Homo sapiens: one gene and its partner. The protein of the gene in region 2 purifies or fractionates together with the protein of the main gene of each other region. This does not show direct contact. Each region holds a gene or a part of one and is shown on either strand. Other genes may lie near its edges.

Region 1 (3,804 bases), on a different chromosome or scaffold from region 2:
GGTGGAACCTCTGGCCGCACCTGATCTTTTCCCTACGAAGACACCACAGGATGCCAGGTGACAAATAATACAGTTGCCAGCTCTGGGCGACAAGAGAATATGTTTGGTATGACAGTCTTTGTCATTCCCTGAACCATCAAAAATGTCTCGGGCTGGGCGTGGTGGCTCACGCCTGTCATCCCAGCACTTTGGGAGGCCGAGGCGGGTGGATCACATGAGGTCAGGAGTTTGAGACCAGCCTGGCCAACATGGGGAAACCCCGTCTCTACTAAAAATACAAAAATTAGCCTGGCGTGGTGGTGCACACCTGTAATCCCAGCTACTCAGGCGACTGAGGCACAAGAATCCCTTGAACCCAGGAAGCAGAGGTTGCAGTGAGCCGAGACTGTGCCACTGTACTCCAGCCTGGGTGACAGAGTAAGACATTGTCTCAAAAAAAATTAAAACAAAACAAAGAATGTCTCAAACAGATCCTCCTCCTCTGAAACCAAAGACATGCAAGAAGCCCCTGAGCCTAAGCTCTCTCTACAAACGCCACCAACAAAGTCCCAGAGCGTGGGGCCAGTGGCCCCTCCGTCATCTCAGGGGCAGGCCTGTGTGCTCAGAGGATGTGGGCCCAGCCCTTGCGGTTGGACCCCCAGGTGCATGGAAGACCCAGGGCCACCGAGGAGGGGCCGGCCCCTCACCTGTAACACATTGCTCTCCGCCTCCTCCCCGGTGATGACTTCCACTTTTTCCAACAAACACTTCCGCGCTGTTGCCTTGGTGTAGGCGGCTGCCGACTCAGCCAGGGACTCTGAAAAGTTATTGGCCAAAAAGACTGACTGATTATTTGGCGAGAGGAGAGCCATCTCCCCTCATCCGACAGGAGATGAGAGGGTTGGTTCTGGTCTCAAGGACGCCTGCTGCCCCTGGCAGGCCTGCCCCGGCAACCCAAGTGGACCCTAGACACAGCCAGAGCATATGGCCTCAGAAGCTGCAGGGAGACCATCTGGGGGCCAAGTGTGGCCCCAGACTCTCGTGTTCGTGCCGAGCAGTCGACGGGGGGACAGTGAGGGACTCCTCCACGCCTGCTGCCTGCGCCTCCCCACCCTCCCCACGGCCACAAGGCGACACAGGCCCTCGAGTTCTTTATCACAAACCCTTGCTCACTGCAAGGCAGGGCCCTGGAGCTGGTTCACATGTGGTTGTTACTGCTGCGGGAGTCGGGCCCCTTATCCCTCCCGGCTGGGGGTGTGAATGGACCCAGCATCCCCCAAGATGACCTACCATGAGCCCCATGCTGTGGTGGGACGCTAACATACCTTTCTCAGGGGTGGCCTCCTGGGACGAGGACTCAGACCCTGACTCGGCAGCTGCATTTTCCCTGTTGGCATCTGAACTGACCTCGTTTAATTTTGGGGGGCTCTGCAGGGACACAAAAGCATACAAGGAAGAGGGCACTTGTGTGGTCCTTCAGCAGCAGCTCTGAGCACCTCTCTGCCTGGCCCCCAACACTACGCTGCCCCCAGCACTCCTGCCCACTCCCGGTGACACCCTGAACTGCCTGGGAGCTCCCCACGTGGTCCCTCAGGCATCACTACGGGGTGAGTGCCACCAGCCGACAGTCCCCTCGAGCCACACTGGTCACTCCGTCTGGGTGAGGCAAGACTTTGAACATTTCATTGAAATAGAAAAAGCACAGCGTGGCCACGAAGGAAGAGAAGCTGCAGAGTACTTAATGCAGCCTAACTCCAGACAGAGCTAGAGTGACCAGGCGGCTCAGGACAGGCCCTCACGCAGTCGCAATGGAGCTGGGTGGAATCAGGAAGAAAAAGGAACATGTGTAAAGAGGTAGGCAAACCATTCTAGAACCCTCTCCCAGGCTGGCTGGGCTCCTGGGAACGGAGATGGGCCTTTCGTGCACCCAAGGCCTTGGCCGCGGTTATGCTCACAGGAGCAGGGAGGCCAGCAACCCTGTCCACCAGCACGGCTGGCTCCGTCCCACAGGACTTTTGTCAGTTGGCCTGGTGGGGAGGAACCATGGACCCCGACTGCCAGCAGGACCCTGCAGCCTCCAGGGAAGCCCATCTTGGGATGAAGTTGGCCCTGGTCAGCACGGAGGAGCCGGGAAAAGCGAATGCCAGTTCGTAGGCAGCCAGTGGCCCTGGCCAGTTTTCAGGCTGAGTCTGAGCAGGGTCTTCCCTCTCTCACTTGCTACTGAAGGCATCCCCATCTCACATAGGACGACACAGCAGCCCTGCTCTCCATGTCCCCTTGACCTGTGGCTGGCGCCGAGAGCCTCTGGTCCCTGAGAACATTCCCAACACAGCCACTCACCAAAACTCGCTCGCTCATGTTCTGGCCAAATACAAATTTGTTGCTGGAGGCGTCGGCACTATTGGTTGAGTTCTCTAAACTGAAGAGAAGATGTGCAATGAGTGTGGGGCGTCACGTGGGAACGTGGCCAGGCAAATGTATGGGTACCCATGGAGCACACACTGACACAGAGGGCACAGTGGAGGGGCCTCCGCCACTGTGCACGGGGTGGCGTGTCAGAGGCAGGAAGCCACACACCTCCCTGTGCCATTGAAAACATTAACCCTTAGCTCGCCCTGATGGAGGGGCCCCACAGCATGAGGGAAGCCACCTTCCACCTGCTCTACCCGCCCATCTCCCAGTCGGGACACGCTTTCTTCTGAGACACCTGGAGGGGCAGCTGGTCCGTGGGTAGCATTACCCCCAGCCATGTCAGTCAAGGACATGATGAGGTCTTTGCCCCAGGTGCCCAAACCCAGAATAAGGGGGCGCCTGAGTCGCCTCTGGCCTGCTCTGTTCTGCTCTGGGCATGAGGTCCACAAGACAGAGGGCACACTCCAAGGGCTGGGCTGTAGCCTCCATGGGCCCCTGGACAACCCCACAGAACTCTGGTCCTGTCTCAGGCGTCCAGTGAATCCCAGGACAAGGCCCACCACCCTGGCCCACCCAAGGTTGTGCCCAGAGTGGGGAATGAGAGAGAGGGGCCTGAGAGCAACCTGGATTCTGGGCCTGAGTCGGGCACGGGGACCACAGACCCCTCTCTGGCAGAAGCCCTCGCGGCCACCTGCATCGCCATGCCAGGCTGGCCGCTGACACCGAGACACACACCTGGAACTGATATACTGGAGGAAATAGTTCGTTGCGGTTGGCGTGTCTGCGCTGGGGTGTCCAGCATTCTCCATGTCGGCTTCGTCCACGCTCTCATTTATCAGCTGGGAATGAGACGGAGCGCTCAGTAATCGGGGGTGGGGGGGTGCCTGGAGTTCCACAGCTCAGTGTCTGCAGACCCCCTGAGCTGCATGGAGCTGCTCGGAGCCATGAACCCTCTCCTGTACCCGCCTGTGTGTGTGCGCGTGCATGTGCTGGGGGGCAGGGCTATAATCAACTCCATCACCTTTTGCTTTAACAGTTAGGATGGAAAGAGAGCTCATGAAGCTCCAAGGAGCCTTTTCCACCTTGTTACAAAACCACGCCTTGTTATAAAACCACGCCTAAGCTGGCCTCTCGGTCAATGCTTCATACCAATAACACAACGTTACAAAGCTGACGTTTTGGGGGGTTTACTATGAACATGATAGAAGCAGAATTTCTTGAGGGCCTCTTTCCTACCAGCTGCTATGCTGAGTCTGTCAAATGCACGATCTGCTTTAATCCTCACGAGGCCTGGGAGGGGGATGTTAGGGACCCTGTTTGACCAACAAGGAAGCAGAGGCTCAGAGGGTTAAGAAACCATGGCTCTGGCTGGGCGCGGTGGCTCGTGCCTGTAATACCAGCACTTTGGGAGGC
Region 2 (4,460 bases):
ACCAAAATATACTCGTATTTCTGTGACAGTGAAGCAAGGGAGCTCAACTTAAAACATACAGAGATTCTAGATGACAGGTATCAGAATGGTGAGGAGAATGTAACCCTCTGAACAGAAAATTAGAACTAACTCAAGTCTTGGTATCTGAAACACTGCCAAATACCAAGAGACGAAACTCCAGCACACAGAAAGTCCTGATCCCACTGACTGGTCTGGCTGTATTTGAGATAGTAACACATGAATTCTCCCCTACAGTTTCCCAAGAATAATTGATTCTGAGGAATTGTTGTATTTCCTGGAGTTTTGCTTTTTTCTTTAGAGAAGTCCAAGTCAGCCAAGGGCCAACAGTCTATAGGTATCTTCAGGATTTCCTCCTGATTGGTCCTTCTCTACTATGTTTCTACTTCCAAGCAAAGTCTGGTCTCATCCCAACCAGGAATATCTGTAGTTTTTGAGGTACTTGGCTCTCTCAGAAGCCCTTAGGGGAAAGCGACATGAAAGAAATAAAAAAGAGTGCTGTCTTGAAATGAAAATGACAGTCATCTTTTCTGAACAGGGATGATATTTGTAATTTCATAGAATTAAGAGATATCTGACTCTCTCAGAAGTCCTCAGAGGAAAAGTCATGCAGAAGAACTACAAAAAAAAGTGGTATCTTGAAACTTAAATTAAAACTACATAGAAAATCTTAAAGATGGTTAAGAGTACATTCTTGCTGGTGGGATAGGAAATGTAATCAAATATCTGGAAGTCAGAATTACATAGTATGTTTTCAAAAGAAGGATGCCAGGAACCCCCCAACAGCTGAAAGAGAAAGTTAGAGGAAAAGTTTCCCACGGAAGGAAGGTGTCCCAGCAACCCTCCAAGGGCAACATTTAGTAGACAATGTACTAGAATACAGCCTTCCATATGTTAAAAAAAAAAAATGTTTCAGAGCTGACCAAGAAGACTAGACAATAACAAACCAAAGCTGGGGGATTGTCCCAAGACATCTAAATCTCCTTCTCTTTCACCTCCTATCTCCAATTAACTAAAGACAGTGATTACAACAGATCTCATGCACTCAGATGGATGAATGATAACTCATTTTCCCTGGCATTCTCCTCCTCATTAATGGACCCAACCTCAAAATAACTCCCATGCTATTTCCATTCCCTTCCATTGTTTGAAAACAATAAAAAAGTTCCAGACTTACCTCCGCAAGAAACTTAATTTCCCAGGTCTCTTCCTAGCACAAGTTTCACAGCCAGCAGCAAAACAAAAACAAATAAGGAGGGGAAAATAATTAATTTTCAAGTTTTACTTTGAAACCTCAGAGGCCCATAGAATTAGACAATCTCGTTGCAAAAGTACACAGACAAGCCTAAAACCATTTAGAGAACTCACCCCCAACAAGTCTCCAGGCTTCCCTAACTCTCTATTAGTCAATTTACAAAAACAATACCAACTCCAAGAATTTCCAGTCTCAATGGCTTGCGGCAAGACAGCTCCCAAATTTAAGAACTTCTGGGAAAACCAATTACCCTCTGGCAGCTTCTCATCTTCCTCCACAATTCCTTATTCCTATTTTGTTACAATATTAACGTTAACTTTCACCTTTAGAAAAAACTGGGAGGAAAGTGGTTACAGCAGACCAGCACTATCCTCCAAATTCTACATTTGGCCCTTTCCCTTAACTAGCACACAATGAGAACAAAATATCTAATGGCGCAGCATCCACTCATACGTCTATGTTTCACCAGGGAAAAGTTTTTCTACATACAGTATCCATGTTACCCCCTCCCTTCCAGACTTAAAACAGCAAAAGGGTCTGGAAACTACAGCACTCATTTAATTAACCTGTCTAGATGCCACTCTATCTTTTCTCTTTCCCTCCTCAGACTTCCAGAGCCTCCACCTTAGCATATAGGGTTCCAATATAGCCATGTCTGCTCCCCCACTCTTGTATTGCTAATGCTAAAAACTAGAAAAGTCCTTTGCTCCTCCACACTTGGGCGACACCGGCTTCCCCATTTTCCCAAGCAGGAAAAACAAGGGAACAGTAAGCTAGGGAGTCTTTTGGAAAACAAACCCAGTTGAATTCTCATCCAACCCCAATTCTGCAAACCCACATGACCATTCCCTTCTGCCCTTCCCACCCTCTTAAAAGCTAAGGGCCTGGCAATTAGAATTGGCTGCAACTGATGCTGCTTAACTCTGTTCTCTCCTCCTCTCCACCGGGGAAAGGGAAACCCCCGAACCTCTATCACCCGTGCAGCTCCACTGTCCTATCTCCCATTCCACTCCCCTTCCTCCCAAACTTTCTTCCTCCCAGTCTCTCACTTTCTCCATTACCTCCTCCCACCGACACTCTCTCCATTCCCCAAGCCTCCGTTCTCTCCTTTTCCACCCAAATTCTCCCCTAGGCCCTTCCCCCTCCCACCTCCAATTTAACACTTTCGAAGCCCCCCAGAAACGTCTTAACTCCAATTCTGACCTTTACCCACCTCCTCGCAACACCCCTCATCAGAGTCCAGTCCTCCCTCCAACCACATGCCACAGCCCCCTTCCCCTTCACACCCTCAGCCTCTCCCTCCTGCTCCTACCCCCTTCAATACGAGCGGATCGCAGCCCCACTCCCCACCTCGGCCTCTCTAATACCCCTGGCTGGGCCCAGTCTCAGCCCTTGTTTACGCCCCTCCCCATGCCCTCACTCCTCCGTCTCGACCCCTGCCCTCTCCCGCAGTTGCCATCTCCCCTGCACGCCCCCCTCGGCAGCTCCCCTCCCCCACCTCTCAGCGTCCCGTCACCTCCCTCTCTTGAGGTTCTCAGGCTGGACGTCGCCACCGCCTCCCCCTCCACTTTCCTTCCCCAAGCCCTTTGCGGCCCCGCCCGGCCCCGCCCCGTCCCGCTCGACTCCCTCTCCCCACTCCGGCCGCCCCTCCGCCTCACTCTCGGCTCAGGCTCGGCGCCGCCATGTTGGATCCATCCGCGCCGCTCTCCCGGGCCTGCCTCACGGCGCCGCATCCGGGCTCCAGCAGCCGCCGCCGCCGCCGCCGCCGCGGCCGTGGGGGAGGGGACAGGCGGGCGGGGGTGGCTGCATCCTGAACGGCGCCTCCCGGAACCCGGCCGGTTAGTGGCGGCTTCGAGGCCATAGTGAGACATGAGCCGGAGTAGCCATAGTAAGTGAGGGCAGCCTGGCAGCGGCATTAATCGGGGAGTGGATAGCTTCACTTCGGGAGGAGAGATAGAGATTGGCAGCCATCTTGCTTTGGGGCAAGCTGGCAACGCCGGTTTGTCTTGACGGCTGCTTAGGGCGGTAATAAGGGATCGAAGAGGATAGCATTCTTGAATGGGAAACATTGGTGGCGCCACAGCTGGCTGGTGGCGACTTCAAGACCCACTGGAAGGCTGGGATTGGCAGCCATGACTCATAAGGGCGGAATACCACGGGGATCGGTTTGTCTGGCGAACTTGAGTGAAGGGTCAAGATCTGGATTTCACCTTTCCTCTGAGCTTCCTGATAACCCGGACGTTCCGTAAACCCGGATCCGGAGCCGAAAGTGGTGCCCAGATCCCGTCTCGGAATTCATTTGTTCAGCATTTACCTTTTGAACGCCGGTTTCCTGTAGGAAGTGTCGCCTAGCTGATCCGTGTAGGGCTGTTGGGAATTGGGGGTGGGGAGGATGGTGCGGGTACGTTCTGGTGTGGCTTAAGAAAGTGGTAATAGATAGGGGAAGACCAGATTATGCGAAGCCTTGTAAATTAATTGATTTTTATCCTTAAGGCAATGAAAAGTCTTTGAAGAATCTCAGCAGAGGTGTGAACAATTTCATTTGCATTTTAGATCGCTGCGTGCAGTGTGAAGGATGAATGAATTGAGGAGAATCAAGGAGAGCAGTTGTGAGGCTCTTTTCCAGGCAAGGATGATGATGGTCTGCCTGTGGAAGGGAGAGTGCGGATGGGGAGATACAGATTGGTTTAAGAGGTACGAATGTTGTGACTTGGACAACTGGGGAATAATGATACCAGTTTCTTTCTCGTTTAGGGGGGAGATAATGAGTTTTAGGTGCCCCTGGGATATTAGCTAATGTGGGTTGGGAACTCAAAAGAAAGGTTTGAGGTGTGTGTGCGTGTGCATATAGATAGCTGTTGAAGCCATGAAGTGGGCTGGAGAGGATACCTGCATTTGCGGGATAGGATGAGGGAAGCCGAAAAGAACACTGAGAAGGGGCAAACCGAAAGGAAAGAAGAAAACCATAGAGAACTATCAAGGAAACTGGTGAAAGCGTTTAGTGTAACAGAGATATAGTAAAATGCTAACTAAAATATATACATCAGGGCCGGGCATGGTGACTCACACCTGTAATCCTAGCTTTGGGAGGCCGAGGCGGGTGGATCACTTGAGGCCAGGAGTTCGAGACCAGCCTGACCAACATGGTGAAACCCTGTCTCTTCTAAAAATACAAAAAAAATTAGAT

The links.
Region 1: the proteins of DEDD (region 2) and RANBP3 purify together in Homo sapiens (affinity purification with mass spectrometry; one large-scale study listed by BioGRID and IntAct). This does not show direct contact.

Annotation. Positions count from the first base shown.
Region 1 is NC_000019.10:5,922,508-5,926,311, forward strand, and holds part of RANBP3 (ran-binding protein 3), read right to left. Parts: intron 3,231-3,804; coding exon 3,127-3,230; intron 2,399-3,126; coding exon 2,320-2,398; intron 1,408-2,319; coding exon 1,305-1,407; intron 797-1,304; coding exon 687-796; intron 1-686. UniProt on the Homo sapiens protein: Acts as a cofactor for XPO1/CRM1-mediated nuclear export, perhaps as export complex scaffolding protein. Bound to XPO1/CRM1, stabilizes the XPO1/CRM1-cargo interaction. In the absence of Ran-bound GTP prevents binding of XPO1/CRM1 to the nuclear pore complex.
Region 2 is NC_000001.11:161,129,620-161,134,079, forward strand, and holds the start of DEDD (death effector domain-containing protein), read right to left. Parts: upstream 3,049-4,460; 5' UTR 2,932-3,048; intron 2,828-2,931; exon of another isoform or gene 2,772-2,827; intron 1,229-2,771; 5' UTR 1,196-1,228; intron 1-1,195. UniProt on the Homo sapiens protein: A scaffold protein that directs CASP3 to certain substrates and facilitates their ordered degradation during apoptosis. May also play a role in mediating CASP3 cleavage of KRT18. Regulates degradation of intermediate filaments during apoptosis.